2 linked regions of the Homo sapiens genome follow. The protein of the gene in region 2 interacts with the protein of the main gene of each other region in a pairwise test. Each region holds a gene or a part of one and is shown on either strand. Other genes may lie near its edges.

Region 1 (16,219 bases), on a different chromosome or scaffold from region 2:
ACTCTTTCACACATTCTATAGCCAATACGAAGATAATCATAACATTTTCCCCTGTACTCCATTAATGAGAAGTATCCCATTGATTTACTTTTAAATGTTACACCAATCATAAATTGTTGACATAAAACCTTACTTGTGTATGATGTTTCATCATTTTTATATATGACCAAATTCCCTGTGTAAAGTTTTGTTTAGGATTTTTGCCTTTATGTTTATAGCAAGGCTGGAAAATTGTTTTCCTTTCATGTAATATCCTTCTCATGTTTCGGTATCACAGAATTGCAGTGCATATCAAATTAGTTTGGAAACAGAAAGGTCAGTGTGTGGGGTTGCAAACAAACATCTTGAAAATATGAGTGCAGACACTTTAAATATTTAAAGTACAGACACTTTAAATATGAGTGCAGGCACTTGAAAATATGAGTGCAGGCATATTAAATCAGTTGGGAGGGATTTTGTTTTTGTAAATTTGGACTGAAACTCAGTGAGGACATGCCAATTCAGAGTTAGAAGAAAACAGCAGATTTACACAGGGAAAACACTCAACGTGTGGAGGTAGCCCCAAGTTTGTGCTAGAAAGAAAGGTCGGTGTTGGTAAATAGAGCAGCTACTCCAGAGAGCTTTCCCTCATCATCTCTCTGCCTCCCACATCAGGTCCCAATTCTTCTGTGTGCATTAATAAATCTACTTCTTACTATTGCTGAAGTCAGATATGTTTTTAGCTACCAAGCAAGCAGGAGGAACATCCATTTTTAGAATAGTGTAGAGAGGACATGAAGGTTTATCTGGCCCAGATTCACATTCCAAAATGACTTCAAGTTAGTCTTTTGAATCCATCAACTAATGAAGTTTTTACACAGTCATGAAGACATAAAAGCAGGAATTAAGGAAAAAAGCATTCATTATAAAACTTAAATTTCAGTCCCATGGTGCACCATGAATTGACACCATCATGAAAGCATTTGAAACTATAAAACTCACTGATAGAACCAAAACACAAGGAAGAAAGAGAAAGGAATCAAACCTTATTATTACAGAAAACCACCCAACCACAAAAATAAACAATAAGAAGGGAAGTAAAGAGCAAAGGATATACAAAAACAACCAGGAAACAATCAATCAAATGATAGGAGTAAGTACTCACCTGTCAGTAATAACCCTGAATATAAACAGATTAAATTCCCCATTTTAAAAATATAGACTGGCTAAAAGGATTAAAAAACAAGACCCAACTATATAGTGAAAACTAACCTCACCTGTAAAGACATACATAGGGTGAAAGTAAAGAGAAGGAAAAATATTCCATGAAAACAAATCAAAAGCAAGCAGGAGTAGCTATATTTATATCAGACAAAACAGACTTCAAATTAGAAACTGGAAAAAAGAGACAAGGAATAGCATTATATAATTATAAAGGGACTAATTTAGTAAAAGAATATAACAATTGTAAATATGTATGCACTCAACAGTGGAGCGTCCAGATATATAAAGTAAATATTATTAGATATTAAGGAATATATAGACCCCAATACAATAATAGTTAGGGACTTCAACACCCTACTGTCAGCATTGGAAAGATTATTTTAACAGAAAATCAACAAAGAAATATCAGATATAAACTGCATCATAGACTAAGCAGACCTAACAGACATTTACAGCACATTTCACCAAATAACTGCAGAATACGTATTCCATCAGCACAAGTAACAATGTCAAAAGTTAGCCATAGGGTACAAAACAAGTCTCAAGAATTTTAACAAATCAAAATCATACCAAGTATTTTATCTGACCATAATGGAATAAAACTAGAAAGCAATAACAATAGGAACATTTAAAAGTATACAAATACATGGAAATTAAACAACATGCACCTGAATGATAATGGGTGAAGAAAGAAATTAAGAATACAATTTCAAAATTCCTTGAAATAATCAAAAATATAAACACAACATACCAAAACCTATGAGACCCAGCAAAAGCAGTATTAAGAGGCGAGTTTATAGCAATAAATGTCTACATTAAAAAACTAGAAAGGTTTCAAATAAACAACCTAATGATGCATCTCAAGGAACTGGAAAAGCACAAACAAGCCAAACCCAAAATTAGTAGAAAGAAAGAAATAATAAAGATCAGAGCAGAAATACACAAGAGAGAGACTAAAAATTACAAAAGATCAACAAAACAAAAAGTTGGATTTCTGAAAAGATACACAAAACTGGCAAACCATAAACTAGACCACCTAGGGAAAAAAAGAGAGAAGACTCAAATAAAATCAGAAATGAAAAAGCAGACATTACCACTGGTGACACAGAAATACAAAGGATTCTTAGATACTATTATGAGCAACTATAAGCTAACAAATTGGAAAACCTAGAGGAAACTGATAAATTCTTAGAAATGTATAACCTATAAAGATTGAACCAGAAAAAAATTTAGAAACCATGAGCAGTTCAATAATGAGTAATGAGACTGAATCAGTAATAAAAAGCTTCCTAACAACAACAACAAAATCCCAGGAATGGAAGACTTCACTGCTGAGTTCTACCAAACTTTTAAAGAAGAGTTAACATCAGTTCTTCTTTAAACTATTCCAAAAAATTAAGGAGGAGAAAGGAGAAAATTCTCCCAAACTCATTCTATGAGTCCAACATTACCCTGATACCAAAACTAAATAAGGGCACGTGGACACACACATGCACACACACACCAAAAAACTACAGGCCAATATTCCTTATGAACATAGATACAAAAATCCTCAATAAAATACTAGCAAACTGAACCCAACAAGACATTAAAAAGATAATACACTATAATCAAGTAGGATTTATTCCAGGGATGAAGAATGTGTTTCAACATATATAAATCATTTATGAATGTTTTAAATAAATGTGATACATCACATCAACAGAATGAAGGACAAAAAGTCCATATGATTATCTCAATAGATGCAGAAAAATCATTTGGTAAAATTCAATATCCCTTCATGATAAGGACTCTCAATAAAGTAGGTATAGAAGAAAAGTATCTCAACCCAATAAAGGCCATATAGACAAACCCACAGCTAACATCATACTGAACTGGAACAAGAAAAGCATGCCAACTCTCACTGCTCTTATTCAACTTAATATTAGAAGTCATAGAGCAATTAGGAAAGAGAAAGAAATAAAAGCCTTTCAAATTGGAAAAGAAGTCTAATTATCCCTCTTTGCAGATAACATAATTATATCTACAGAAGAACCTTTAGACTCTGCAAATAAACTCTTAGAACCAATCAATGAATTCAGTAAATATGCAGGATACAGCATCAACATACAAAAATCAGTAGCATTTCTATACAGCCCTACAGGGCTTAGTGGGTGTTCTCCCTGTGTGCAGAGACAAGAGATTGTAAAAGACACAAGACCAAGAGATAAAGAGAAAGCAGCTGGGCCCAGGGGACCACTACCATCAAGATGCAGAGACTGGTAGTGGTGGCTGTGTCTTTAGCTTTGCAAGCTTTTTAGTTTGAGGTAGTCCCACTTGTCTATTTTTGCTTTTTTTGCCTGTCAGCCCTGCTTTCTTTTCCCTGTCACAGGTGTCACTCCCCAGGACACTCCCCAGCAAACCCCCTGTTCACAAACATTTGCCTCTGGGACTGTTTTCCAGAAAACCTGACCTAAGGAAGATTATAAAAGTTTATCATTATCCAAAAATTGGAGAAGAAGAGTAGAAAAAAAATAGTACTGTCACTTTTTCAGCATGTGTTCTGTATGTAACCCAGGAGTTTATCTCATTTCAACGCTAGGTCTCCTCCCCCTGCAAGGTGCTACTTGGGGCACACTCCTAGTAGCGTATTTGCCCGAGCCTAGGTTCCTCAGTCTGGAATAACCCTTGCTGGAGGTGAGAAAAGTATGTAGCAGAATGGTCCAGTGAGGTTTGGGGCATTCCAAGTCTTTCAAAATAATCGAGAGTGGGCACTGACGTAACATGGTTAGTCTTTTTGAGGACTCCATTTGCTGTGAGTTGCAGATAATCTTAATTTTTCTGAGTGTCCAGAGAGTGTTGGTTGGATTAGACAACAGACAGACCTACAACATATCAAGTGTGAAAACCAATATATATATCGTAACACATACAGAGGTGAACACAGGAATCTGCCCCAACAGTTCTGTATGGCTTTAGATGAAAACCCCCTGGATTAAAATAGCTTAACTGTTGGCAGGATCTCTTATGCATAAACTCGTCTCAGGAAAGTTTTTCACCTGCAGTTGACAATCCTGCCAGAGGCAGTAAAATTGAGGTTTCTGATTCTTCATGTTATTGTACATCCCTAATCCCATTGAAATTTAGGAGATAAAATCACTTGTCCCAAATCACAGAGTCAGCACTTTCACACTCATGATATAAATTCAAGTTCCCCCAGTCCCTAAGCCTCTTCCTCCCACTACGTATTCATAGGAAGGAGGCCTCATATCTAGATCTTCCCTCACAGCTTCCCACCCCACTCATACCCCCAACGAATCACAGAAGCAGGATGTGCAAAGAGAAATAGGCTCGTTTATTTATTCATTGATCAACTGGCACTTCTTGAAAGCCTGCTGTGTGCCAAGCCTTTCCCCAAAGGAGGATATCAGTGGTGGAGCCAAGTCTCAGGGTGGAAAGGACCTGGACCACACAGAGCAGGACTCCAGAGCCTCCTCCATATGGCAGGAATCAAGCTGTGAGAGAAAATCAGATAAGAGCTTCAGCATAGAAACCAGCCAAATCATATCCACATCCTTCCTCCTGCCCAAGGATCCTTCTGAGATAGAGAAAATAGCAAGATAGCGCTATAGTTGAGAGAGACTTAGTGTCAGGAGACAAGTCTCATTTTCACCGTAAAACTCTAAACTCAAAGCATTGAACTAGATAATCCTCAAACTCCACTGATCCTTTGTGATTTCACCTCAGAAAACATGATGGAAACAACCTGAATAATAAATTCTTAGTGCACATAGTGCTTTGCAGAGCACTTTCAATCTCATTATGTACATTTTACCGATAAAGAAACTGAGACTCAGAAAGACACTTGCCCAGGACCCCCACCCAGAGACACTAGAATAGAATCAAAGCCACAGGCGATCCTATGGAAATCCTGGCCCTGAGACCTGGAGAACAGTTCTCTTGAAGGACAAGGGAGTCAGACAGAGGCTGTGCTTGGAGTAGGGTTCAGGAGTCCCCCTGCCCATATGCCTGGGCCTCCAGAGGGTTGAGGCTGAGAGGGCTGGAGGGAGCTCAGTGTGCCCTCATCCCCTGCTTACCTTTCACAGGGGAAACGCAGGATTTCCCACACATGCCCATGCAACACTTCAAGTCACGCTTGCACTGGCCATCCATCTCACAGAAATTGGGGGGGTTAAGCATCAAACATTGGCCATAAGTCACTGGGCACTTCCCAGGCTTCCTCCTTGCTGGGTGAGAGTGAGGCTACCGGTCAGAGGCCTTGTACTTTATACAACCCCTCCCATCCCCACTTTTTAGAGTGAGCCCCTGCTCCAGCTTCAGCAGGGGGGATCATCCCCTCCCCACCTCTATCACCACCACCTTCTCCCTAAGGCGGCCCCCAAACATAGCACCTGGCTCTCCTAGAACTTCAGGCCCCCCATTGATGCAGGTGGCCAGCCACCCAGTGCTGACTAGGTGGGAGGCTTCCAACTACCTGGCTATCTAAATGCCCGCTGCTTCACCAGCTGCTGGCTACCTTCCTGCTTAGGGCAGTGTGACTCACTGACGGATTGACAAGGAGGCCTGGCAGGACCCATCACCCAGTTCCATCCCTCTAATGCTGTGTCCCCAGGCTCACTCCTCTCTACCCAGTTCCCCGACCTGCTTACTTGGGTTTGGGGTGTCAACAGGATCCAGGCATTTGATGCCACAAGTGTCAGGACAACATCTCTTCTTCCCTGGACACTGCCAGTCACTCTGGCACTCAGGTTTCTTGTATCTAAGGCACTGGGCAGATTTCTTAGGAGGACAGACTCCAGCTTTGAAGGCTTTTGAAGAGAAAGTCAAGAGGTCAGGAGGAGGCTGGGTACTGAGGACCCATCATGCCTCCTGAACAAAGCACCACTTTTGAGGGGGAGAGACCCTTACCTCAGTAGCTGTCCACAAAGCCCAAAGGGTCATGCCTGCCTGATCTCCAGGTGTATTGATGGGCTTGATTAAATTAGACAAATGGACAGGGGACGTTTCACACCCAAGAAAAGGGCAGCAGGCTTCTAGTCAAGACCTCCCACCCAAGAGCAAAACAAGGCTACACAAAGGCAGAGAGGAAGGCTGGGAGTGATGGAGATGGAGAGAGGTAAACAAAGATAAATAGAACCAGTGTGAGAGAAGTTGAGAGCTAAAGCCCAAGGCAGAAGCACAGAGACAAAATAGCAGAAGCAAAGACACAAGGAAGCAGAGTCAGAAACTAATGATTTGAGAGTCGCAGACAGGTGAAGAAGAAGGCGGAGTATGAGAGAGAGAGAGAGAGAGAGAGAGAGAGAGAGAGAGTGGGACCTGGGCTGACAGCATGGCTGCATAGAGGAAGCATTTCCAGAAGCTCAAACTGTCACACAAACCTTGGAGCTCAGCCAGACATGTATTCCACCCTCAGGGAGGTCTCCCGAAACTAAGCTGAGGGATCAGAGCCTACAGAAGGGGACACACCCACACCACAAGGAGACCCCACCTCTGACCCTGCAGCCCAGATTAGACCAGAGTGACTCCAACTTACACTTTCCAGAGCCTTCCACAGCCCAAGGTGCCAGAGTTCCCAGGGCAAGCAGCACCAGGAAGGGGAAGAGGCCGCTGGACTTCATGGTGAAGGCAGGAGTGACTCTGATGGCCAATGCCAAACCTCACTATTTATTCTTTCACCAGTGGGTGTGGCCCCACCAGAATTCTTTCGGCCTCTCCCAGCTACTATTGCATAAGCAGGAAACGTAGCCAGAGACCAGAAATCCTGACACCAAGGAGATTGTTTATCTTTCCTATGCCAGGTAAGGCTATGAGGCCAACACAGCAACTATCAGAAAAGAAAGGGAAGAGATTGGCCTGGGAAGTTGGTTGATTAAAGAGGCCATCTCAGTGTCCATCTGAGCCCTAAACATCACAAGATCCCAGGCCATTAGCCTTATAGGTGGAGAGAGGGAAGAAGTGGTCAATTGCAAAGGTGCTACCCGGACCTGGAACTAAAACCAGACACAGACTCCCTGCTGAGACTTTGTGCAATACATTCTATTCTCACATTGCTAATTCTGATTCTCACATTACTGGACTCTCAGGCATTGTGAAACTCTGCTGATTACTCAATGCAGTTTCTTTCTCAAAAGTTCAGCTCGTTCAACCAACTGATACTTAGTTCCCTGAAATATTTACACCGTTATATCCCCAGTGCCTGTTCTGTGCCTGACACAGGAAAAGCACTCACAAATGAAAGCTGAAGAAGAGCTCCGCTCTCCACAAATCTCTCTGGAGCTCAGTTGTCTCAGCTGTGAAATGAAATGATACTAACAAGTCAGCCCTTCTCAGAGGGTTATGAAATTAAGGGCATGAAGGGACTCTGAATGAAAAGAACAAATGAATAGTATCCCTTCCCACTAAAGAGAATTGAAATGAATCTGAGATAAAGGGGGAAAGCAGCTCATCAGTCACTGTAATCTACATTTAGCTGTGAGATAATTTGAGATCTTAGAGGATTGCTTCCTAAAATTCCCCAAAATCCCTTACAGATCTCACATGACAGCAAAAAATTAAACCCATTCTATTTGCTACCCAGTCTGCATAGGTTGCTTCTAATTATAAAGAGAGCGACCATTATCTCTAAAATTCAGCCCATAGCTGAGTGTAGGGTCGCACACTTGCTGTCTCAGCTGCCCAGGAGGCTGAGGTGTATGGATTCCTTGAGAGTAGGAGTTTGAGACCAGCCCTGGCCACATATTGAGACCCCATCTCTACAAAAAAATGTAAAAAATTAGCCAGGCATGATGACGTACGTATGCCTGTAGTCCCAGCTACTTGGGAGGCTGAGCCAGGAGGATCGCTTTAGCCCAGGAGTTTGAGGCTGCAGTGAGCCATGATTGTGCCACTGCATTCCAGCTTGGGGGACAGAGCGATACCCTGTCTTAAAAAAATAAAATAAAATAAAATTCAACCAAAGCTCATCTAGCTACAAACTCCAAGCTCTTGACTCATTATCTTCATGCTTGGAATTCTCCCATTCATTCCTAAGGTGAAGGTTTGTGGAACTTTCCACAGACATGAAAGACCCACTCATTATCAAGTAGCGATGGCCCCACATGAAGTATTTAAGTATTCCACAACCAAACAGGCAACTGGCAGCAGATCCCTTTATACAAAAGTCACTCCATGGTTTGAATTTTGGTGGATCAGAAGACTTGGACATAATCAATCATCAGTCAAATTTTGGTGGAAAAAGAAAAGGAAGAAAATTAATATGCACAAGGTAACTACTATGAGCCAGGTGCATTCACTCTTAGTTGGAGTACTTAGTAGGGTAGGTAAGAGAGAAATGGAGGCTATGATTTCCACCAATGGGTAATGACACTCTCAGGTCAAGATTTTTGTTCTCACTTCCACCACCCAGGGGATAATTTGATTTCTCTCACAGAGTTCCTGTTCTCTCTCTCTCTCTCTCTCTCTGTTTGTTCCTATTTTCCTCAGTGCCACACTCAAGAAATTATCTGGAGTTTTCTAAATATTTATTTCTTAAAGAATGAAAAGGGGCTGGGCACGGTGGCTTATGCCTGTAATCCTAGCACTTTGGGAAACCAAGGTGGGCGGATCACTTGAGGTCAGGAGTTCAAGAGCAGCCTGGCCAACATGGTGAAACCCTATCTCCACTAAAAATACAAAAATTAGCCAGGCAGTGTGGCACACACCTGTAATCCCAGCTACTCAGGAGGCTGAGGCAGGAGAATCACTTGAACCCTGGAGGTAGAGGTTGCAGTGAGCTGAGATTGTACCATTGCATTCTAGCCTAGGCAACAAACTGAGACTCCGTCTCAAAAAAAAAAAAAATTAAAAGGAAAATGCTACAGCTTAAGTTTTTTTTAAATCTGTGATTGACTGATTGCTCAATCTGTGATTGACTGATTAGAGCCAGCTCCTTTCTCATCAGAAAAGAGCCCTGTGCCCAATTAGCAATGTCTTCCATGGGTGTCATAAGAAGATAATAGTATATAATCATTATTATCTTTGACATAATTGGTTCTAAATGTTTACATCATAGAATGTTAAGACTAAAAAGAGGACTTCAAGGGTTTTCTAGATCAGCAAACTACAGTCCTTGGACCAAATCCACCTAGTTACCTGTTTTCATAAAGTTTTATTGGCACATAGCCACACATCCATTAATTTATGTATTGTCTAAGGCTATCTTTCCACTACAATGGCAACAGGGACCTAAAATATTTACTGCACAGCCTAAAATACTTATCGTCTGGTCCTTTACAGAAAATGCTAACCCCTAGACCAAACCCACAGCTTGCATAAAAGAGACTGAATCCCTTAGAAGAAGATCCAGGCCCAAAGCTGCATAGCGGATTAACGACACACACAAGATTGAGCTTTTCTAAAACAGGTTACTCACATGCTGATCCCCAGAACCTGTCTGGTGGAGGACACTTCCACTCCTAACCAAATCTTAACCTGAGACTGACTCATTCAATCTATCTCAAGGCTGGGAGTGGTGGCTCACTCCTGTGATCCCAGAACTTTGGGAGACTGAGGTGGGTGGATCACTTGAGGTCAGGAGTTTGAGACCAGCCTGGCCAACATGGTGAAATCCCATCTCTACTAAAAATACAAAAATCAGCCGGGCATGGTGGTGTGTGCCTGTAATACTCAGGAGGCTGAAGCAGGAGAATCACTTCAACCTGGGAGGCAGAGTTGCAGTTAGCTGAGGTCATGCCACTGGGCTACAAGAGTGACACTCTGTCTCAAAAAAAAAAATCTATTTCACACACCCTTTATTGCCTTCTACCTAAATCCTATAGATTCCTTCATTCATTTATACAAACCATTCACACAAAAGTTGTTTAACATTTCTTACCACATGTCAGGTATTGCACTAGGCCTAGGGCTACAGAAAAGAGCACGCCCACGGAGTCGACACCACATGGTTGTTAAGAACCTGAACTTCAAAGTCAGACTTACAGGTTGGAAGCAAATCACTGAACCTCTTTGAACTTCAGCTACCTCCACTGAAAAATGAGAGTGTTGCTGCCTCTGGAGTCGTACAGTTGTTGTGAGGAGTATTTGGAAAGCACTCAGCAAACTGTCTGGTCCCCTCAGTACATTACACATTGTTTTTATTACCGGCGTGTCCCTGCACACATTAAGCGCACAGGGAGCTGTCAGTCTTTAACTAAATAGCTTAGTCCTTGGGTCTGGACCCATCTGGCTCTGTCCCATTAAATGTTTGACAAAACATGGTCTTATTTCTTGACAAAATAGACCTGATTGGGCCTATTGGTAGGTAGGTAGACAGACAGATAGACAGATCTTAACTGACAGATAGATATAGATAGATAGATAGATATAGATAGATAGATAGATAGATAGATAGATAGATAGCCAGATAATCAACTATTGGTTCTGTTTCTCTGGAAAACCCTGGCTGATGGAACCTGCTTGCCTCTGCACTTCCCAATGCCATTTATTAAAGTTGGTTACATCATTACTTGTGAGGCTGCATCATCCTTTATGCCTTCTCTGAATACTGGCTTCCAATTACTGTCTCAAATGTTGTTAGTGTGGCCGCTTGTCCCTGACTACCAGGGTGCTGGTGACAGGGGGACCCTGGCAGCTGGTGGGTCCTGCACACACCAAGTAGCGGGACAGGGACCCTGCGCACCTCTGGGAGTCTGCACTCTCCCTGTGAGTATCCACATACTTGTGGAGGAGCAACAGTAAATAATTTTTTTAACACCATGGCAGATCTAGAGAGAAACTGCCAAAGAAAGTTAAAAAATTAATTTTAGTACCGTTAACACTTTTTTTCCTGCTTTTGAACAAGCAGCTCCACATTTTCACTTTGCATTGAGTCTTGTAAATTATGTAGCCAGCCCTGGAGGGGCTCAGGGTTGAAGTGAGAGGAGCATCTCATTTGCACAAGAAATGTCTCTGCCTAATCCATTATGGCTCAACACTGACCCGAGAGAGCATAGGTCAATCAGAGGAAAAAAAAAAAGACATCAACTGAAAAGCCCCTTTGGAGTTGCACAGAGATGGCCTGGAAAGCCCTGAGGAAGAGACAGGAGCAGCCACAGGCTCCTGCCAGGAGCCATCCAAGGTGGTAGGATGACTGCCCTAGATTCTAGCAATGGGGGAAGGAGTACAGAGTGAGAAGCACCCCCTTGGACTAGAACCCATGCAGTTCTCAGTCCAAGCTGGGATTCTCTGCCCCATGGCACCATTGATCCTGGCTGGCTTCAGGCACTCCAGGGGAACATAGACAATTTTGAGGAAGACGCCCCAAGGCACAGAGCGACCTGAAGTGTGAGGTGCAGGGAAGGAGCCCCGTTGCTCAGGTCTAAGGAAGAATGTGTTTCGGGTCGCCCCATTCTGATAGCAGATGCCAGCTTCACCCTTAACTAAAAGTCACTGTGTTCTTACCTAAAATTCACTATGTTTCCAAGTCTCAAAACCAAAAAACAACACAGAACAAAAAACTCTTTCAGAATCTGGCAGACAACCAGGTTTTCACAGCTCATTCCTGTGTGAATAAGGCAGCAACTACCTTTCCCTGGGCCTCAGTTCCTCTACCTGTCCCAAGACGGTAACTGTGACTCTAAGAAACAGCTTCATCCTGCTTCCTCTGAGGCCATCAGCTCTCCCCAAGAGCCTCAGCCAATTTTCTGACTTTCATAGTTGCCTTTATAACTTAGCTTAAAATATTGTCTTAAACAAAATACATAAAACGTCAATAATGACCAAATGGGAATGGAGACACAGAGCCAGGGAGTATGGAGATGTAGTAGGTGTGGTGGGGAGAGTATTGGGGAAAAAAAAACCCCGAGCTGAGACAGGAAGAGTAGATGAGAAAGAGATGACTGCAAGGGAGGTGGGGTCATTTAAATCACCTCTGGAAGTGTCATCCACAGGTGGTGGACATGGCAACTGGATCTCCCTAGACCTTCCAGAGAAACAGATGGCTTAGCCACTCCTTATCATTTTCCCACCCAAGAAAGTTTGAATTCTGCAATGTTTGTACTTCCTCCCCTACTGCTCATCATAGTCCTAATAAAATCTGGAAATATGAACTGTCCTTTTAGGCCCACAAGTGAATGGGTGAAGGGCAGTAAAGCAGAATCTGGGCAAGGGTGAAAAACATCCACCATCAAAGAATTGGCAGGAGAAATTAACCAACAACGGTGGATCTCAGGTGTCTTCATACTTATTACCATGCAAGAGATGGTTGGTGTACAGATCAGGGCTCTGCACTTTATTCCTTCAAAAACTGCATGTCTGTCTCCCTAGAGGAAGGGATCCAGTTAACCTAAGGTTAAAGAAACAAAGTCTGTGGTATGTCATGAGGAAATGCTTTAGGGACCTGGTAAAACAAAAAGAAAAACAGTGCTCGGCATTAAGAAACTGCCATCATGACTACCCATGGAAGAAAACCGGGAATAGAAAAACTGGATTATTAAACTGTGGAACAGAGCTATAAGCAGCTTGGGAAAAGATGTCCCCAAATCACTAGAATCCATCTCCTTTGGTTTAGCATGTTTTGTTACATTTAAGCGTCACACAAAACTTGGTAGATACTAATGTCAAGTCAGTTTACAGATGAGAAAAAGTGAGTCTCAGAGAAACGTTCCTGTTGCAGATCAGGAGATGGTAGGGTCTTAGATGGACATGGCAGACGATGCCTGGTTGATCATTACTATGGGAGAGTTTGGTGTCTAAGCCTGGGGTCAGTGGAGAGCACCACTATGAGGACACCTCTGTGGCCCAAACAGAGCAGAGTGCCAGAAAGACCATGAAAGACTCACACTTGATAGCATCACTTCTGGCCTCTGGGACCCTGTGGTCAGCTAGAGAGGCATGACGATGATACTGGACTCAGGACACTGGGCTGGAATCCCAGCTCTGTCCAATTTGATGTAGAACCTTCCTTTCTCTGGGCCTCAGTTTCCCTATTTGTAAGATCAGTGCATTGGAACAGATGCTCTTTAGAGGCCCCAAGTCTTAGATTCTAGCTGGGTTTTTGCCTTATAGAGGACTCTCAGGACCCAGAGAGCCAACTTTCCTGAATAAAAAGCCTAGGAATAGACACCATGCATGACCCCGAACTTCACAGTGGACCAAGCACTTTTATATCCCATTTTAAAGAAAAGGAAATGGAACCTCAGAGAGTAAGCCCACTTGCCCAAGATGACACAGCAAGTCAGAGGTACAGTAAGATTCAAACCCAAGTCTTCAGAATTCAGCCACATACTGCTTCATTATGGTCCCTCCAAGACTTCTTTAGTCCTAAACCCAGAGTTGGAGATGCCTGGGATAGTAGCACTGTCCAGATAATCCTTCGGCGGAAAGTTAAAAAATGATCTTAAAGATGCAAGAAGTGAGAGTGCTGAATAAACCAAGGAGAATAGGTGCTATTTTCAGGTGCAATTTGAGCAAGGGCTCAAACTATAGCTCCCACAAGATTCTCTCCACGGCACTTCTCTTCATGTTGGCTTCATTCTTAGTCAGGCTCCCTCTTAGCATTTATAATATGGCTGTGGCATCTCCTCCCATCTTCCCAAATTCATGTCTAGTAAGGGCTTTTTCTGGGCAACTCAACTAACTAGGAGTGGCTAGAATTAAATCTTTAAACCAATGATTGGGACCAGGGAACTGGGATGTACCGATTGGTTTAAGCCAAGGCCACAATACTCATCACCATGTGTACTCATCCCCAAATCCAGTGGAATTTTCAGAGTGGGAGAGGGAATGATTCTCCTGGGGTAAATTAGGATATAGCTACCAGCAGAAGGGTGAAAGGATGCTCAGTGGTAAAAATAGCAGTGAGTGTTCTCTAAAGTATACCCCTTTTGGTTACTGAAATCTACATAACTAAATTTTTTCAAATACTTTCTAAACCAACATCTACATAAAATGCACTCAACCTCTCTCCCAAAGAAAGACAACAAAATGTCTCTCTGGGTACTATATTCATCTCCAGTTCTGCAATGTGGGTGAAAGCAGTTCTGTCAGTTAAATTTATAGTCTTCACAGATTAAGTTTAATAAGCTTAAGTAAATTTAACCACTTCAAATGCACCCAATATAGAATGGTAGATTGAGGGCGGAATGACTGCAATAAAAAGTCCTATTTGCAAAAGGGAAATATAGGAAGATATATACAAATTGTCACTGGCCCGTAATACGGATTGTACATCCTGTAAGACAGGGATGTGAGGACTTCCTACCTAATGTTGGAGTGATTTCCTTACTCAATAAATCTGAAGAATCCAGTTCTGCTGTCTGGGAGCCTCTCCTTTGCCTGTCACCTTCCATGGCTACATCTTGGAGGAGTATTGCAGAGGATGCCCTTTTGTTGGGGAAGGAAGGGCATCTGCACCTTTTCAAGAATTCACTTTATATAGGTGCAGCAGGATGTGGGGATCGACATGAACAATCAGTGGCCATTATGAGGCTTGGTTTTCATGTTTAGTTGGCTCCTGGTCCATTTGCTTCATATAAAAGCATGAACTAGTAACTATTGTCAGAAATCTCGCCGAGTCATGTTTGCCTTTTATTTATTCTGCTTTACTCCAAATATGCACTTTTAGTCTGAAGATGCATGTCTTAATTTAATCCTAAAAGAAAAAGTCCTTTCTTTATCTCTTTGAATATTACTTCTGTGCCATTCTCTCCAGTCTCTTTCTGGAACTTCCACCGGATATTTACTAGACCTTCTATTTTTATTATCGTTGTTTTGCCTTTCTCTTATATTTTTCTCTTCATCTCTCTGTGCTGGGCTCTGGGTGAATTTCTCAGTACTGGCTAAAAATTCACCAAGTTTTCTTTCAGCTGCATCCAGTCTAAACTCTACTTTATCCAATGTTTTTCCAACTTTTATTTTAGGTTCAAGGGTACATGTGCAGCTTGTTAACATGGGTAAATTGCATGTTAATATTTGATGTACAGATAACTTTGTCACCCAGGTAATACCCAATAGGTACTCTTTCAGTCCTAACCCTCCTCGAACCCTTCACTCTCAAGTAAGCCCCAATGCCTATTGTTCTCTTCTTTGTGTCCACGTGTATTCAGTGTTTAGCTCACACTTATAAGTGAGATGATGTGATACTCTGTTTTTGGTTTTTCTGTTGCTGCTTTAATTCACTTAGGATAATGGCCTCCGGCTCCATCCATGTTGCTACAAAGGACATTATTTCATTCTTTCTTATGCCTGCATAGTATTCCATGGTGTTTATGTATCACAGTTTCTTTATCCAGTCCACCATTGATGGGCATCTAGATTAATTCCATGTCTTTGCTATTTTGAATACTGCTGCAATGAATATATGCACGCATGTGTCTTCATGGTAGAACAATTTCTATTCGTTTGGGTATATATCCAGTAATGAGATTGCTGGGTCGAATGCTAGTTCTATCTAGTAAGTAATGAATTTTTATTTCAATAATCATTTATTTCCAGTATTTCTACTTGGTTTTTTTTATATGTTCATCTGGTAAATCTAAATAATGTACAGTTGTCTGCCACTTTTTTACCAAATTAGGCAGGACAACCCTTAGGCCAATTGTTAGGTATCTGCATTCTCTGAAAATTCAGCCTCATTGCTTGTTTTAAAAGACATAGAAAGAGACTTAGCATCAATAAACAATAAGCACCTAACCATAGCTCTCTTGTTTGATGTTGTTTTTCCTCCCATGAACATAAATCAAATTATCAATCAGCAATGCCTCTATGTGCATTTATGTTTAAGGTCTTCCTCAATTAGACAGCTAACCAAGGTCATCCCCTACAAAATAAGACATACAAGTTATAAATTGGTGCATGCTGGAAAGGAATTAGCATGATTTGCAAACCTAGAGTGTGCCTTAAGATTTTCCCATAGAAAATGGAGGCAATTATATCTCTATTCTGGTGTCTGTAATCCTAGCACTTTGGGAGGCCAAGGTGGGAGGATCGTTTGAGCCCAGTATTTCAAGACCAGCCTGGGCAAAATAGCGAGACCCCATCT
Region 2 (16,615 bases):
GTCGGCCAACTAATGAAGCACCCCATGTTGGCATCTGCACATAAGACAGACCTCCATCTTCCCCCAATTTAACTGGAAGCTTCTCCAAGACACAGGCACCTCCTGAGTCCTCACAGCCTTATGCATCTTGGGACCCAAGGTGCATTTCCCAATGAGCTTCCTTGTCCCCAAATTAACCGGTTATCTCATTTCCTGATGCGATTCCTAAGGGTGATTAATTTCCAGAATTTGTCCTCTAAAGTCCATTTGCTAATTGCCTTTACAATCGTCATCTGAAAGGTCAGCCGGAAGGAGCTGGATTTTTGAGCCCCAGTCTTGAAGTTAGATCTCTGGGCTAATTCCTAGACCCACATGAGGGTCCTTGTCAGCTTTTTTTTTTTTCTTTTTTAAGACGGAGTCTTGTTCTGTCACCCAGGCTGGAGTGCAGTAGCGTGATCCCTGCTCACTGCAGGCTCTGCCTCCCAGGTTCAAGCCATTCTCCTGCCTCAGCCTCCCAAATAACTGGGATTACAGGTGCACACCACCAGGCCTGGCTAATTTTTGTATTTTTAGTAGAGACGGGTTTCACCATCTTGGCCAGGCTGGTCTTGAACTTCTGACCTCAAGTGATCTGCCTGCCTCAGCCTCCCAAAGTGCTGGGATTACAGACATGAGCCACCGCGCCAGCCCCTTGTCAGCTTTTCATTCCAATAGGTGACCTACCCACTTCCTTTAGCACTGAAAATGCCCCTGGAACACTGCCCAGTCACTCTTTCAGGGCTCAGACCAGTAGGAGGCACTCTTATCCACCCAAAAAGTGATGTAGCCCTGGGTCTACGCTTTGAGTACTCTATCACCTGCATCACTTTTACCAACCCACAATATGCAGAGAATGGTGAAGTAATATTGTTAAGAACATCACTAATCAAATTAGACCATCCAGTTCAAATCCTGGCTGTGCCACTTAGGGGCTGTGTGACCTTGGGCAAGTGACTTAACCTCTCTGGGCTTCACTTTCCTGATCTGCAAAATGAACCTGATAATAACACCTACCTTTTAAAGTTATTGTAAAGTGTTAGGCACAGAGCAGGTGCTACATATGCTAGCCACCTGATACGGTTTGGATTTGTGTCCCCACCCAAATCTCATGTCAAACTGTAATCCCCAATGTTGGAGGTGGGGCCTGGTAACAGGTGACTGGATCACGGGGGTGTATTTTTCCCACTTTCATGCTGTTCTTGTGATACAGTTCTCATGAGATCTGGTTGTTGCAAGTGTGTGCAAACAACTTTGCTGCTTCCCTCCTCTCTTCTCCTCCTGCTCTGGCCATGTGAAGACATGCCTGTTTCCCCTTGGCCTTCCACCATAATTGTAAGTTTCCTGAGGCCTCCCCAGCCATGCTTCCTGTATAGCCTGCAGAACCGTGAGCCCATTAAACCCCTTTTCTTTGTAAATTACCCAGTCTCAGGGATTTCTTCAGAGCAGTGCAGTAACAGACTAATACACTATCATTCTCCATTTTTTCTTTTTGCACTAATACTGACTGAGCTTCTCAGCTCAGATGGGCGCTGGACTGGACACAGGGCCGGATGGAGGTGGGATGTGTGGAAATGAATCCACCACAGATGTAGCCTCACGGAGCTCAGAGAGTCAAGCTGGAAACTCAGACACAAACACACGGAACCGGGGAAGATTGTCCCTACTCCTTCAGTCTGGAGGATCAGCTTGTTCCTGAGAGTATCCAAGAAGGGAGACTTTGATTCTCCCCTTCTGTGGCACTAGGTATGCAAATATGCACTGTATGGCATTTAGGCGCAGGCAGGAGCAACCTTGAAATAATTGGTGTTCAATAAACATATATTGAACACACATTTAATCAATGCCAGTTCCCTTTGGTTCCATATTGACGTTAAAAACAAACCGTAGGCCTGGCATGGAGGCTCACATCTGTAATCCCAGCACTTTGGGAGGCCAAGGGGGGTGGATCACCCAAGGTCAGGAGTTTGAGCCCAGCCTGGCCAACATGGTGAAACCCCATCTCTATTAAAAAAAAAAAAAAAAAAAAATTAGTAGTGCGTGGTGGCTCACGCTTGTAGTCCCAGCTACTCAGGAGGGTAAGGCATGAAAGAGAATCACTTGAACCCGGGAGGTGGAGGTTGCAGTGAGCTGAGATCACGCCACTACACTCCAGCCTGGGCAACAGACTCGGTCTCAGAAAAAAATTAAACACACACACAGAGATAATAAAGACAAAGACTCTCTAGACGTGAAGGTCAGAGAGCGTAACTGGAATATGTTGGTGATGTTGGTGACAAAACCAACAAGGCCCTGGTCATCATGGATAATTTTTTGTATAAATTCATGGGATACAAGTGCAATTTTGTTACATGCAAGGATTGCATGGTGGTCATGAAAAGACATACAAATGACCACCAATTATTATCTTTTCCTTTTTTTTTTTTTTTTTTTGAGACAGGGTTGCACTCTGTCACCCAGGTTGGAGTGCAGAGGCGCAATCATAGCTCCCTGCAGCCTCAACCTCCCGGGCTCAAGTGATCCTGCCACCTCCAGTCCCCTCAGTAGCTGGGACTACAGGCGGGCACCATCACTCCTGGCTAATTTTTGTATTTTTTGTAGAGATGCAGTTTCACCATGTTGCCCAGGTTGGTCTCAAACTCTTGGGCTCAAGTAATCTACCCACCTCAGCCTCCCAAAGTGCTGGGATTGCAGGTGTGAGCCACCACACCTGGCCCCAAGTATACTTTTTTTGGGGCAGGGGGGCAGCGGTGGAACAGAGTCTTGCTCTGTGGCCCACACTAGACTGCAGTGGCACTATCTCAGCTTACTGCAACTTCCGCCTCCCGGATTCAAGAGATTCTCCTGACTCAGCCTCCCCAGTAGCTGGGATTACAGGCGCCCGCCACCGCTCCTGGCTAATTTTTGCATTTTTAGTAGAGACAGTGTTTCACCATCTTGGCCAGGCTGGTCTCCAAGTCCTGACCTCATGATCTACCCGCCTCGGCCTCCCAAAATGCTGGGATTACAGGCAGAAGCCACTGCACCTGGCCCAGCATACTCTTAAATGGACCTCTGTGCTTGTAACCCATGCACCAGATTGGTTGCTGAAGGCCACAGAGGCTGAAATGATGAGGTTGGCCAGTCCACTCAGACTGTATCCACATACCTCCCTTCCTCAGAGGCTGGCGCAGAGTATAATCTTAAACGGATCTCTGTGCCAGCCTCTGAGGAAGGAGGCATATGGATAGTCTGAGTGGACTGGCCAACCTCATTATTTCAGCGTCTGTGGCCTTCAGCAACCAATCTGGTGCATGGGTTACAAGCAGACTCAGCACACCAAAGTCTTTCATGGATTTGATCCCTTTCAAAGTATCTAAAATTCCAATCACTGGGAGCAAGATTGAGCTGAAAATCTAATGTTTGGGAATGGAGAGGGATGAACCTGCATTGTTTATGGGCATAAATAATTCATAAGCATGGGTTAAATGGTTTTTAGCCTCTGGGACCCCATGGAACAGTGGTTCCCAGGCTGTTACTCGAAGACCCAATTCAAAGAATCACCAAGGAACGTTCCCTCCCTTTTAACCACGTTGGGCATCAAGTTACAGTCTTTTCTTTTGCATCTTGTGGTCTCTGCTAGATTTTACAATTGTTGAGGGCCACATTATAATCAGTTTTTTCCCTGTAATGCTTGATAATGGTTTTCCCCTTGGTCCTTTCCTCTAAAACCCTGCAAAGATGCACCACATTTAACCCACAAAAAGAATTTATTTTTGTTATAACTGAACATAATTCTTTCTTGAAGATATCTTTTGGACAAAATGTTCCATTGTGCGGGTCATGCCATATGGTGTGTAATGGGGTACGAGTTGCTGACAAAAAAGACGACAGGGCAGAGTGTGAGCTCCAGCCTGCCCCAAAGCTAAGCCCTGCATTTGCTGGAACATGAGAGCCTGGAGCTCTTAAATATGTAAGAGAGGTTGTCAAATCTACTTAACTGCTTATGAGCAATGAAGTCTCATCACTGCACTTGTGTTACTGACTCTGCAAAGGTGATTGTTGGCCATCATTTTGAATATCTTACTACTAAGATGTATTCAAAAGCACAAAAAAGAAATCTAAAACTGCCAATCTAGGACGTAGAAAATGTCCATGGAATTCCTTGAAAGATGCAAAAGCGAAATCCTTCTACATGATGTAAAATCAAAGTTGTTTTCTCCCTATCTCTGCCCAAAACCAATTAGATATCACGGAAATAAAATATATACACAAGCAAAGCCAAAATTTTAAGTCCACATCTGAAAACTGAAATGAGCTTTTCAAATCAGCTCAATTCTTCTGCAAGTGAGACTTCTCAGGAGCCCTAATGTCCCTTCATGTCCTGGCTTAAATTCGCATAAGCAAAACACCCTAAACCCTGGTTCTTCAAAATGAAAACCAAGACCCTATGAACGGCTCACAATTAAATTAACATTGAAAATCAGAGTAAAATAGGGAACTATATATATTTCCTGAACATAAATACACACACCTCCGTATCAGCTCACGAGCCAGCACCCTACCTTCTTACTTTCCAAGAAGCACTAGAAACTTTATTGCTAAAATCAGAAAAAATACAAGGATGTTTACTATCTCTGCTACTATTAACACTGTATTGTAGGCATTAACCAACATGATTAGACAATTAGAGGCATAAGATGGGAAAAGAAATAAAGTTATTTTAAGGTGATATGATTATATGTATGGAAAATCCCAAAGAATTCATGAAAAAACGATTACAAATAATAGGTGAATTTAGTAAAGCATTAGAATAAGACCAACATACAGAATTTAACAGGACATGTGTAGAAACAGAAGATAATGTATGAGCAGAGCCTATTTATAAGAGCAAACATAAAGGTTTTACAGATTTGAAAAAAACTATCAAAAGGAAAAAGCAAAGCAATTCCTTAAAATAGAAAATGAACTGAAACATGCAAACACAACTGTATTTCAAGTTAATGGCTTAACTACAGAGAAAACCGTTTTTTTCAAGTTACTTTAGAACATAATATTTTGACTGAGCTTTCCACGTGAGACCTAAGTCTCAGGACAAAAAGAACCACAAAGAAATCATACAAAAGAGATTCATGTAACATCATTAGGAATCAAGATTTTCTATGTTAGAGAAAAGAGCTGTAAATATAACAATTTTAAGGTTAAGTAAAAACTCTGAAATCTAGTTTGAATAAAAATATCACTGTGAACTCAATTTATTTTTGTCTTTAAAAAAATATGGACGTATCAGTTGTGTCACTGAAAAGACGTCAAGGTAATAAAACTCAGGCAATGAGCACTCAAATTGTAGTCTCAAAATACCACTTCCGGCTAAGTAATCAGCTCCATGGGAGGAAATACGAAAAGTCTTGTCAGGCCTAAAAGTGGATAAGTTCTCAATGATGCCAAATGACAGAGAAACTAACTGGAAGACACAGCCAATCACCAAATATGGTACAACTCATTATCCTGAAAATTGACATGAATGTAATTGCTAAGGAATAAAGTAATTACTCTTTTAAAGTAATAAGAAAAGAACCAAACAATTGTCCTGCTTTTTCCATACAGATTATATTCCAGGATAACCAAATAGTTGATGAAGCAACTCTCTTTTAGAGAGGTATCATAAACCGATAAAGAAAAAATCATAGATTAAAACACCACCATAATCCGGAACTTGTCTCCAGACTATGAAAGTACCCAGATGGCTCCCAAACCTGGCCCAGCTGGGAACTGCATGCAGCTGAGCCCACCATGCTCTTTAGTTTCTGTGCCCACCTGTGTGCGGAATTTATTCCTTCTGCTGGGTTGTTGGTCTCGCCGACTTTAAGAATAAAACCACGGACCTCGCGGTGAGTGTTACAGCTCTTAAAGATGGCGCGTCCGGAGTCGTCTGCTCCTCCCGGTGGGCTTGCGGTCTTGCTGACTTCAAGAACGAAGACGCAGACCGCGGCCGTGAGCTTTAAAGGTGGCGCGGACCCAGAGTAAGCAGTAAGCTTTATTAAGAAGCAGGAAAGAAAAAAACACAAACTCAAGCGGATAGCACCCCAGCGAGCTTCCCCAGCGGGCTCGGGGAGCCAGCTTTTATTCTCTTATTCAGCCCTGCCCATGTCCTGCTGATTGGTCCATTTTACAGAGTGCTGATTGGTCCATTTTACAGAGTGCTGATTGGTCCATTTTACAGAGTGCTGATTGGTCCATTTTTACAGAATGCTGACTGGTGCATTTACAATCCTCTAGCTAGACACAGAGCACCGATTGGTGCATTTACAATCCTCTAGCTAGACAGAAAAGTTCTCCAAGTCCCCACTGACCCAGAAGCCCAGCTGGCTTCACCTCTCACACCCAGGGGCCACTGCTGGAGGAGCAGCCCCAGCCCTTGTCCCCTCACCCTTCCCCCATGGAACCTGCTTTGGGAAAAACAAACTGGAACAATAAAAATGCCCCACATTCCAAATCAAGCCCTTGTCAAAGTCCCTTGCTTTCAGCCCAGGAAGTTTCTAGAAGCAGTCAAGCCACAGGACAGAGAAATATCTGGTGGCCCAGCTCTCCCTGGAGAATCCATCTCCCACCTCCAAAAGGAAGCACCCAGACCATGGAGGCCACAGCCCCAGGCCTGGCTTTCCTGGTAGGATAATATTTAGGGTTACCCTCTTTCTCCTGGGGCAGCTGGTCTAGCTCCGAGAAGGTTCTCTGATGGCTGTGCTGGCTCACGCTAAGCCCACCTGGAGTAGGCCAGTGGCTGGTGGCCACCTTCAGACCTGGGCTCACCCGGGGGGTTTGCACTGATGGACGCCCTGGCAGAGATCACAGAGGCAGGTTCTGTTAGACACATATGCACACATACACTCTTACACGTATGCTCACTTACATGCTTACACATACACTCATATGTACACACTGACACTTGTGCCCACCCACTCACACACACACACTCATACACACATATACACTCACACACACCACACATACACACATATACATTCACACACACATGCACACACACACCACATGTACACACACACGTATACATACACACACTAACATACACTCACATCCACACATACATTTACATACACTCATCCACACACACCCACGAACATACTCATACATGCACACCACACATGCACATTCTTACACACACGTACACTCACATAGACTCACATACCACACATGGACACACGTGCATACTCATACCACACATGCTCACATAAGGACACAAACTCACACATCAGATACACTCATAAACACGCACACTCACAAGCTCATACATGCATGCACTCATGCACACCACACACACACTCATACATATACACACTAACACATGCACACATACATATATACACTCTCACTACACATACGCATATAAACTCACAGTTATGCACACACTCATACACATATACATTCACACTCACACTACACATACACATATACACTTACACTTATACACACACGCACAGCACATATGCACACACATACACATAACAAACACACTACACAGACACGCACCACTCGCAAACATTCCCACTTATGCATTCACATGCATGGCACATACACAAACATGCACACACATCACACACACTCGTATACACATGCACACACACACTCTTACATACATACACACGTACACACCGCACTCCCATACATGCACCCTCACATATACTCCCCCTTCCTTCTGTTTCCATGATGTCTGCTGTCTCCAAGGCTTTCTGTTTTTGAGTCCCCTGCTACAATTAAAATACTCCTGAGAGCAATTAAGCTTTGGCAGCTAATAACTTAATTACCCACTAATACCGTATCTTCCCATCACCCTCGCCAAGCAGGAGCAGTGAGGTATGAGACGGATTCACTCATTGGAGGCAGACCGTGGGAAGATCCAGGATCCTAGAGTTTGGCGGGAAGCTCAAGAGACCCATGCTGGAGCCAGAGGCCCATGGGCCTCCTTGAGTCCTGGGGCCGAATCCTTCGTTCTGTGCACCTACTACAGAGCAGTGTCCTTAACCAGGGCTTAAAATTATCTACCAACATGAAGAGTGACCTACAAAAGAAACTGACCTGATCAACCCCTAGTTCACAATTGGGTAGAGCGAGACAGAGAGGCTGAGTGGCTTCCCAGGGTCACACAGCTTCTCTTGCAGGCCAGTGCCTTCTTGATGCCAGACCAGGGGTCCTGGGATGGGTGGTGGCAAGACCCTCACACCAGCCTCCCTGAACTCACTCCCCACTCCACCCTAACACTAGCATGGCAGCACAGAACTTCCCAGAGACGTTACAGAACAGCAGAGATTGGAAGTCCAGTGTTGGCCCCCAGTCTGGATAATTCAAGCAAATGTTTGAAGGGAGGATGTCCTGAATTTGCCATAAGCTGTATTTCTCCCAGGACGACTGAGAAGCAGTATCTGTAGATGGGGGAACATGAGCTCTGTACCCCTCTCTGTTGCCAAGTTCATCCATTTCATGGCAATGGTTTCCTTCCATTTTTGTGACATGCTTGGATGGCCCAAGACTCCACTGGTCATTTAATTTCCCTTCCCAGCCCCCAAATATATATCCTGAATTCCACATATGCTATGGAGTGAATTGTGTCCCTCCTCCAAATCCTTACGTTGAAGCCCTCAACCCCAATGTGACTATATCTGAAGATAGGGGTTTGGGGAGGTCATTTTAAATGAGGTTTTAAGGGTGAAACCCTAATCCAATTGGACTGTGGCTTTATAAGAGGAAGAGAGGGATCTCTATCTCTGCCATGTGAGGACACAGCAAGAAGGCAGCTGTCTGCAAGCCAGGAAAGGAGTCCTCCCTAGAACCTGACCATGCTGGCACTTTGACCTTGGACTTCCAGCCTCCATAGCTGTGAGAAAATAACAGCTGTTAAGGTATAGTTTAAGCTCCCCACCCGCTAGTCTATGGTATTTTGTTATGGCAGCCTGAGCAGACTACTACAAGGTACCTAGATCTTTCTCCCTGTGGGAGCACCTGGGTCTAATTCATACCATTGTGTCATCCACTCCAGATGCACCTGTATTTTCTCCTTCTTATAAAACGGGGCATGCCAGCTCAAATGCCTACAGGGACCAGCAGTCATGCCAAGAGGCAAAGACCACGAGGAAGTGGCTCCCTTTGTGCAAGGCGGTAGCCACGACTCATCACCCATCCATTGTTGCTATGAGTGAGTATGGCCCGGCATTGCCAGATGTCATGATTTAAAGAGGAGCTGGAAATCCAGATTGTTAATAAATCAGCTGATTTTTTAAATGCTGGCAACAACTTCTAAGTTTCAAAACACTTTGGGAGAAAACCAACACACAAGTAACACAAGAAGAAATAACAAACACACAAGTAAACAAGAAGAAACAACAACAAACCTGTTTGTGGGCTGAACCAGGCCTGTGAGCCACCAACTCACAATCTCAGTTTCGTCGATCCTCCTGGGAAAATGCTGGAAGCCTGAGCGGTGACTAAGACAGCAGGGTCCCAGGCAGTGGGGCAGAGGCCCGTGAGGGTACGGGGGGCGCGGGGGGCATAGAACTGCGCTACTGGACGGTGACACCGCCTGCAGGTACCACCACGCTCCTTCACCTAGGGCTTCCTTTGGCCAGTGCCCACCCAGGTGCCTGAGTCTGATCTGTTCCCAGGGACCAGGATCCCACATCTAGAGGCAGGACAAAAACAAACAGCCCCAGCCCTGGGCTCCATTTCTTTTAAGGTTGTGGGTCTGCTTCTGAAGCTGATCACCAATGCTTGTACCGTTCCCTTCGCCCTACCCTTGACATTTTCCAGTCTCCACCTGTGATGTTGAGGTGGGAGGCAGGACTTGACTCCAGACCAGACTGAAGACTGGCTAAAATAGGGAAGAGGCCCTGGAAGCACCTCTCCGTGAGACACACCCACCAGTGCCATGACAGTTTACCATTGCCATGGCAACACCCAGAAGTTACCACCCCTCTTCTAACAATTTCTGAATAGCCTGCTCCTTAATTTGCATATAATTAGAAGTGGGTATAAATATGACTGCAGCACTGCCCCTGAGCTGCTGCTCTCCACACACTGCCTATGGAGTACCCCTGCTCTGCAGGAGTAGTCACAGAGCTGTAATGCTGCTACCTCAATAAAGCTGTTTTCTTCTGCCACTGGCTCAGCCTTAAATTGTTTCCTGAGTGAAGCCGGGAACCCGGCTGGGCACGGTGGCTCACGCTGTAATCCCAGCGCTTTGCGAGGCTGAGACAGGTAGATCCACCTAATGTCAGGTGTTCAAGACCAGCCTGGCCAACATGGTGAAACCCTGTCTCTACTAAAAATTCAAAACTTAGCTGAGCATGGTGGTGTGTGCCTGTAATCCCAGCTACTCAAGAGACTGAGGCAAGAGAATCACTTGAACCTGGGAGGCGGAGGTTGCAGTGAGCCGAGATCGCGTCACTGCACTCCAGCCTGGGCGGCAAAGTGAGACTCTGTCTCAAAAAAAAAAAAAAAAAAAAAAAAAAACAAATAACAAAAAGAACCTTCCCGGGCTTCATCCCGATTTGGGGACCCACCTCTCCTGCATTAATGTCAGCATCTATCAGCCGAGGGTTGAGCTGGGGTGGGCTGGGCTGAGCTGGGCTGGGCTAGGCCAGGAGGCAGAGAAGTGCAGGGCACAAAGAGGCCACAGAGAGCTGAGACCAAGTCTTTGGTCCAGGGCAAGTCAGTGGGGAAAGGTGTGCTTTGCCAAGGCATGCTTCAGGTCTCCAGGTCAGCTGCCAGATGGAAGCTCAGCTTCCCCGGGATTCCCATAGAGCCTGAGTCTTCATCCAGGCCCAGAAACCTGGAGATATGCTCAGTGAGTACAGGCGGAGGGCGGTCCCAGCCGTGATCTGGAGGCCAAGGATAATAAGACAACAAGCGTTTGAGAAGCACCACTGCTGTTTGGTGCCCTCGCCTCCCGAGGGAGGACATGAGTGAGATGCCCCGTGCAATGGGATTGGCAGAGACCTTGGGCAGACCCCTGCGGTCTCTGGCCATCAGCCTGCCAAAAACATCCTGCCTCCCCCACTCCACCTTTCCATCCCAAATGACACAAAGATTAAGCACCAGCCAACAAAATCAGGTTGCAGGAACCACAACCAGTTTGTGTGGATTTGCCTGAGCCAGGGTGGGAGGAAGTAAATGAGAACCTAAACCAAAGGTGACAAAGAAATCAGTTGCAAGCCTGGGGTGGCTTTCTACTTCTGTCCCCGCTACCGTGGGCACTTGCCACATAGTTCTTGGTTACCAGCCAGCATGCTTTACCAGCACTGGTTCCTAAGTGACTATTTAATCATGCATTGTGTGTTTGAATGTATTCATTATATTTTAATATGATTATGTTCAATCCAATAGACTGAAACTGATTTGTCCAGATGTATAATTATTTTCTAAATGCTTATAATTCTTGGCGGCAGAGTTGGCAGAGGTTTTGAGAAAGAAGAGGAGTCCATTAGCTCTTCATGTTCATTAGTCATGGTTGTGGGAGCCTCATCAGTGGGTTTGAGGTAATCGGTGCCATGCTACCCTGGGACACCCTGGCCTTAAACATGATCACAGAGACCTTGTGTTTTGAGCCCCATGCAGGGAATCACTGGGTCTCTAAGTTTCATCTGGAGCTCCTCCCTCTGCTGAGCTGTTTTTCCCTGTTCCTCTTTTTGTTTGTTTGTTTTAAGGGTTTTAAAATGTCCAACTTTAATTTAGATTCAGAAGGTACATGTGCCGGTTGGTTAAATGGATATATCGTGTGATGCTGAGGTTTAGGGTAAAAACATTCCCATCATCCAGGTAGCAAGCATAGTACCCAATAGGTAGTGTTTCAACCTTTGCCCCCCTCCCCCTCTTCCCTCTCTAGTAGCCCCCAGTGTCTGTTCTTCCCATCTTGATGTCCACATGTACCCAATGTTTCTTTCCCACTTACAAGTGAGAACATGCAGTATTTGGTTTTCTGTTCCTGCATTAATCTGCTTAGGATAATGGCCTCCAGCTGCATCTATGTTGTTGTAAAGGACATGATCTCATTCTTTTTCATGACTGTGTAGTATTCCATGGTGTATATGGACCACATTTTCTTTATCCAATCCACGAATGATGGGCACCTACGTCGATTCCATGTCTTTGCTCTTGTGAATAATGCTGCAATGAACATACAAGTGCAGGTGTCTTTTTGGTAGAACAAATTATTTTCCTTTGGGTTTGGGAAGGGGCTCTGCCCAGGGTGACTGTCGCACTGCACCCTCCAGGGCTCTGGAAGACAGTAGTCCCCAGATTTACCACAGTATCCCCAGTACCTCAGCCATATATTCACCACTTCTGGACAATCGCCCTCTGTAGCTTCCCCGCCCCGGCTCACATAGGGCTCCTGGAGTTTACCAGAGCTTTCCACAGAGATTCTTAGTCTTTTGCTCAGCCCCATCTGGATGGGTCTCCCTGTAGTTCAAGCTCTTATGTCACTGGGTGATGTGGCTTGCACCTATAACCCCAGCCCTTCAGAGGGCAAGGTGGGAGGATTGCTTGAGGCCAGGAGTTTGAGGCCAGCCTGAGCAACATGGCGAGACCCCGTCTCTACCAAAAAATCTTTTTAAAAATTAGCCAGGCATGGTGATGCATGCCTGTTATCCCAGCTACTTGGGACACTGTGCCGGGAGGATTGCTTGAGCCCAGGAGGTTGAGGCTACAGTGAACTATGATCATGCCACTGCACTCCAGCCTGGGTGACAAAGCAAGACTCCAAGTAATCCCTTTGTTTTTTGGTTTGGCGGACCTCTACCCATTGAAAAGCCTAGAAGTAGATTCCCAGAAACACCAAGCAGCCAAGAAGATGGATGCCCATCCCAGTGGGTGCAAAGTTGAGCTGGACAACACACGAATGCCCTGCTGACGACGCCCTGCCGCTGCTCAAAGCATCACAGTTCTCACCCTACTGCTCCAAAATTCCGTGTTGCACATGATAATTGTGCAAATGGTCTAAAATGGATTGTGATCACCACAACCCATTTTAGACCATTTTCATCATTCCCAAAAGGAACCTCATATCCACTGGCACAGTCACTCCCTAGTCCTTCTTTGGGAAGGAAGATTCCTCAGGTCTTCCTTCTTTGATAACCCATGGAATCTTGGGGCAGGGCATTTGGCTGCCGTATTTTCCTCAGGATTCATGTCTGGATTGGCTCAGGTAATCCCCTAAGGCTGGGTTTGGGAGGCACTGATTTGCCTTTCTTGGCTTTGACTGCATGAATACGGGTGTCCCAGAAACCCCACTTCTCCCAGTTGGCCTTAGAGTCATCCTGATATAGAATGGCTGGGCTCCTGACTAAACCCCACCCTCAAGCTTGGAGCCTCGGCCCTAAGTGGAAACAGCTGGCCCAATTTTTCTGCCCAAATGATTGCCTTATTGGCCTGCCATACCCCTATCCTGTGCTCATAAAAAGAGAAAAGAGCAACACAAGTGGCTGACCGGCAAGGATACAAGTGGCTGAGCAGTGAGCAGAGAAGCAAAAACTGAGCGTTGGAGACTACAGGTACATGCAGCTAACTTCAGATGTGTGGTTTTGGAGGGGAGCCCAGCCAGACATGGCTGAGCTTCAGGGAAAAGATCACCTTCTCCCCACACCATCCCCTTTCCAGCTCCCTCTCCACCAAGAGCCACTTCCACTGCTCAATAAAGTCTTCTGCATTCATCACCTTTCACACAGTTCATGTGACCTGATTCTTCCTGGACACTGAACAAGAACTCGGGTGTCAAAAAGGACAGGTGCAGAAGACTGTCACCCTGACCCTTCACGGAGCCGTTAACACTTAGCTGTCCACAGTCTGCAGGCTGAGTGAAATGAGCCACTTCAGTTCCTGCCCACGAAGGGGCAAGTTAGATGCTCACATTAACCCTAACCCTAACTCCCACCCTAACATTCACCCTTGGGTTGTATGAAGACATGACTAGAAAGAAACTTGGGAAAAGAAGGACAGAGGTAGCCAGACTCATAAGATTGAGGCACGATCTAAAGTGGTCCATCCTGCCTTGGCTGGAGCCCAGCATGAAATAACTACATGACCTGGCTCTAAACCCCACAGGCAACACTTCCTCTTGCAACCCCAAACAGGGGCAGATTTTGCTGAGTAGATGCTGGCTGGGAGGCTTCACTCACTTCAGAGTGAAATCTGAATCTAGGGCTCCCCTTAAGGAGGGAAGCAGGGCTACACCGAGAGGGAGAGGAGCTGGCATTCACCTGGGCACCTGTTTCAGGTCATGAGAAATCACCTTTTTAAAAAATTCCCCCAAAGGCAACAGTGCCTCTGCAGAAGACAGGTTTACCAGGCCTGCTCCAGGCTGATCTGGATGCATCTTTTTTTTTTTTTTTTTTTTGAGACGGAGCCTCGCTCTGTCGCCCAGGCTGGAGTGCAGTGGTGAGATCTCAGCTCACTGCAAGCTCCGCCTCCCGGGTTCACGCCATTCTCCTCCCTCAGTCGAGTAGCTGGGACTACAGGAGCCCGCCACTACGCCCGGCTAATTTTTTGTATTTTTAGTAGAGACAGGGTTTCACTATGTTAGCCAGGATGGTCTCGATCTCCTAGTGATCCACCCGCCTCAGCCTCCCGAAGTGCTGGGATTACAGGCATGAGCCACCACGCCTGGCCGGGATGCATCTTAAACATGCATCTGCAAGGGCCTTTTTCATATAATAACTTCTTTCCTTTTGGGTAAATACCCAAATTTCCCAATTTCCAGGGAGTTCTGGGTCTAGAAACCCGGGCAGGTTCTTACTGCACTTTCCTTTGCGTCCAGTGCGTTTTTAGAGTGAGCATTGTCTGGGAACTTTCCAGAGATCAGATTCCTTTCTTAAAAAAATGGTAATTTATTTCAATAGTTTTTAGGGTACAGGTGGTTTTTGGTTATATGGATGAGTTCTTTAGCAGTGATTTTTGAGATTTAGTGCACCCATCACATACTGTACCCAAGATGTTGTCTTTTATCCATCACTCCACTCCCAACCTCTCCCCACCCTGAGTCCCCACAGTCCATTAGATCGCTCTGTATGTTTTTCTATCCTCACAGCTTAGCTATGAGTGAAATAACTCAGGAATGGAAAACCGAAAGAATAATTCTTATTCTTCATCCTTAACGTAAATCCTCACCTTTTCCGAATTGTTTTTCTCTCTCTTCATCAACCTTTCTGCTTTTAACATCTTATCTTCTTGGCTTTATCTTTTACATGAACTCTCATGGTGTCATTTTGTCTTTATTTTATCTTATAACAGTCATCATATTTCAGATGATAAGATTTCATTTTATCCTACTTTTTTTTTTTTTTTTTTTTTTTTTTTTAGACTAAGTCTTGCTCTGTCAGCCAGGCTGGTGTGCAGTGGCACAATCTCAGCTCACTCACTACAACCTCCGCCTCACAGGTTCAAGTGGTTCTCCCGCCTCAGCCTCCCAAGTAGCTGGGACTACAGGCACATGCCACCACACCCAGCTAATTTTTTTGTAATTTTTAGTAGAGACAGGGTTTCACCATGTTGGCCAGGCTGGTCTCGATCTCCTGACCTCATGATCTGCCAGCCTCAGTCTCCCAATATCCCACTTATTAATGAGAATATATGGCATTTGGTTTTCCATTCCTGAGTTACTTCACTTAGGATAATGGCCTCCAGTTCCATCCAACTTGCTGCAAAAGACATTATTTCATTCCTTTTCACAGCTGAGTAGTATTCCATGGTGTATATATACCACATTTTCTTTATCCACTTGTGGATCGACCCGCACTTAGGCTGGTTCCACGTCTTGCAATTGTGAATTGTGCTGCTATAAACATACATCTGCAAGTGTCTTTTTCATATAATGACTTCTTTTCTTTTGAGTAAATAGCCAGTAGTGGGATTACTGGATCAAATGGCAAATCTACTTTTAGTTCTTTAAGGAATCTCCATACTGTTTTCCATAGTGGCCGTACTACTAGTTTACATTCCCGCCAGCAGTGTAGAAGTGTTTCATTTTCACCACATCAATGCCAACGTCTATTGTTTTTTGACTTTTTAATTTTGACCATTCTCGCAGGAGTAAGAAAACCATATTGTGGTTTTGATTTGCATTTCCCCGGTGATTAGTGATGTTGAGATTTTTGAGTAACCACAAGCCCCCCTGGCTGTTTATTTTGATGAAGTCTTTTCAAGGTAGCAGCAGCAGCTGATAAAGTTGCAGGGTCCCCAGCATCTTTTAATTCTTCTTGCTGAGTGACACCATCCTCTGCAGAGGGGAGGCTTAGTTTAGGATACTCTAAGAACCAGTTACAAAGTCACTTCCCTCGTCCTCCGCAAGTGCTTCCAGCTGACTTCTTAAAATATTCCCTCCCAGTGAGATTCCATTTATATAAATTGTCATTTACCTGTTTCATTCTTATTCTTCATCCTTCATGTAAATCCTCACCTTTTCCTAATTGTTTCTCTCTCTTTGTCAACCTTTCTGTTTTAACATCTTATCTTCTTGGCTTTATCTCTTACATGAACTCTCATGGTGTCATTTTGTCTTTATCTTATCAGATTCATCTTATTTCAGATTAAAAGATTTCATTTTGGCTGAGCGCATCGG

Evidence for each region.
Region 1: the proteins of CALN1 (region 2) and SLPI interact in binary tests that used the Homo sapiens proteins (3 or more experiments, as listed by UniProt).

Annotation. Positions count from the first base shown.
Region 1 is NC_000020.11:45,247,723-45,263,941, forward strand, and holds SLPI (antileukoproteinase precursor), read right to left. Parts: upstream 6,843-16,219; 5' UTR 6,822-6,842; coding exon 6,737-6,821; intron 6,012-6,736; coding exon 5,853-6,011; intron 5,430-5,852; coding exon 5,280-5,429; intron 4,698-5,279; coding exon 4,693-4,697; 3' UTR 4,517-4,692; downstream 1-4,516.
Region 2 is NC_000007.14:72,406,247-72,422,861, forward strand, and holds the start of CALN1 (calcium-binding protein 8), read right to left. Parts: upstream 6,093-16,615; 5' UTR 5,812-6,092; intron 1-5,811. UniProt on the Homo sapiens protein: Negatively regulates Golgi-to-plasma membrane trafficking by interacting with PI4KB and inhibiting its activity. May play a role in the physiology of neurons and is potentially important in memory and learning.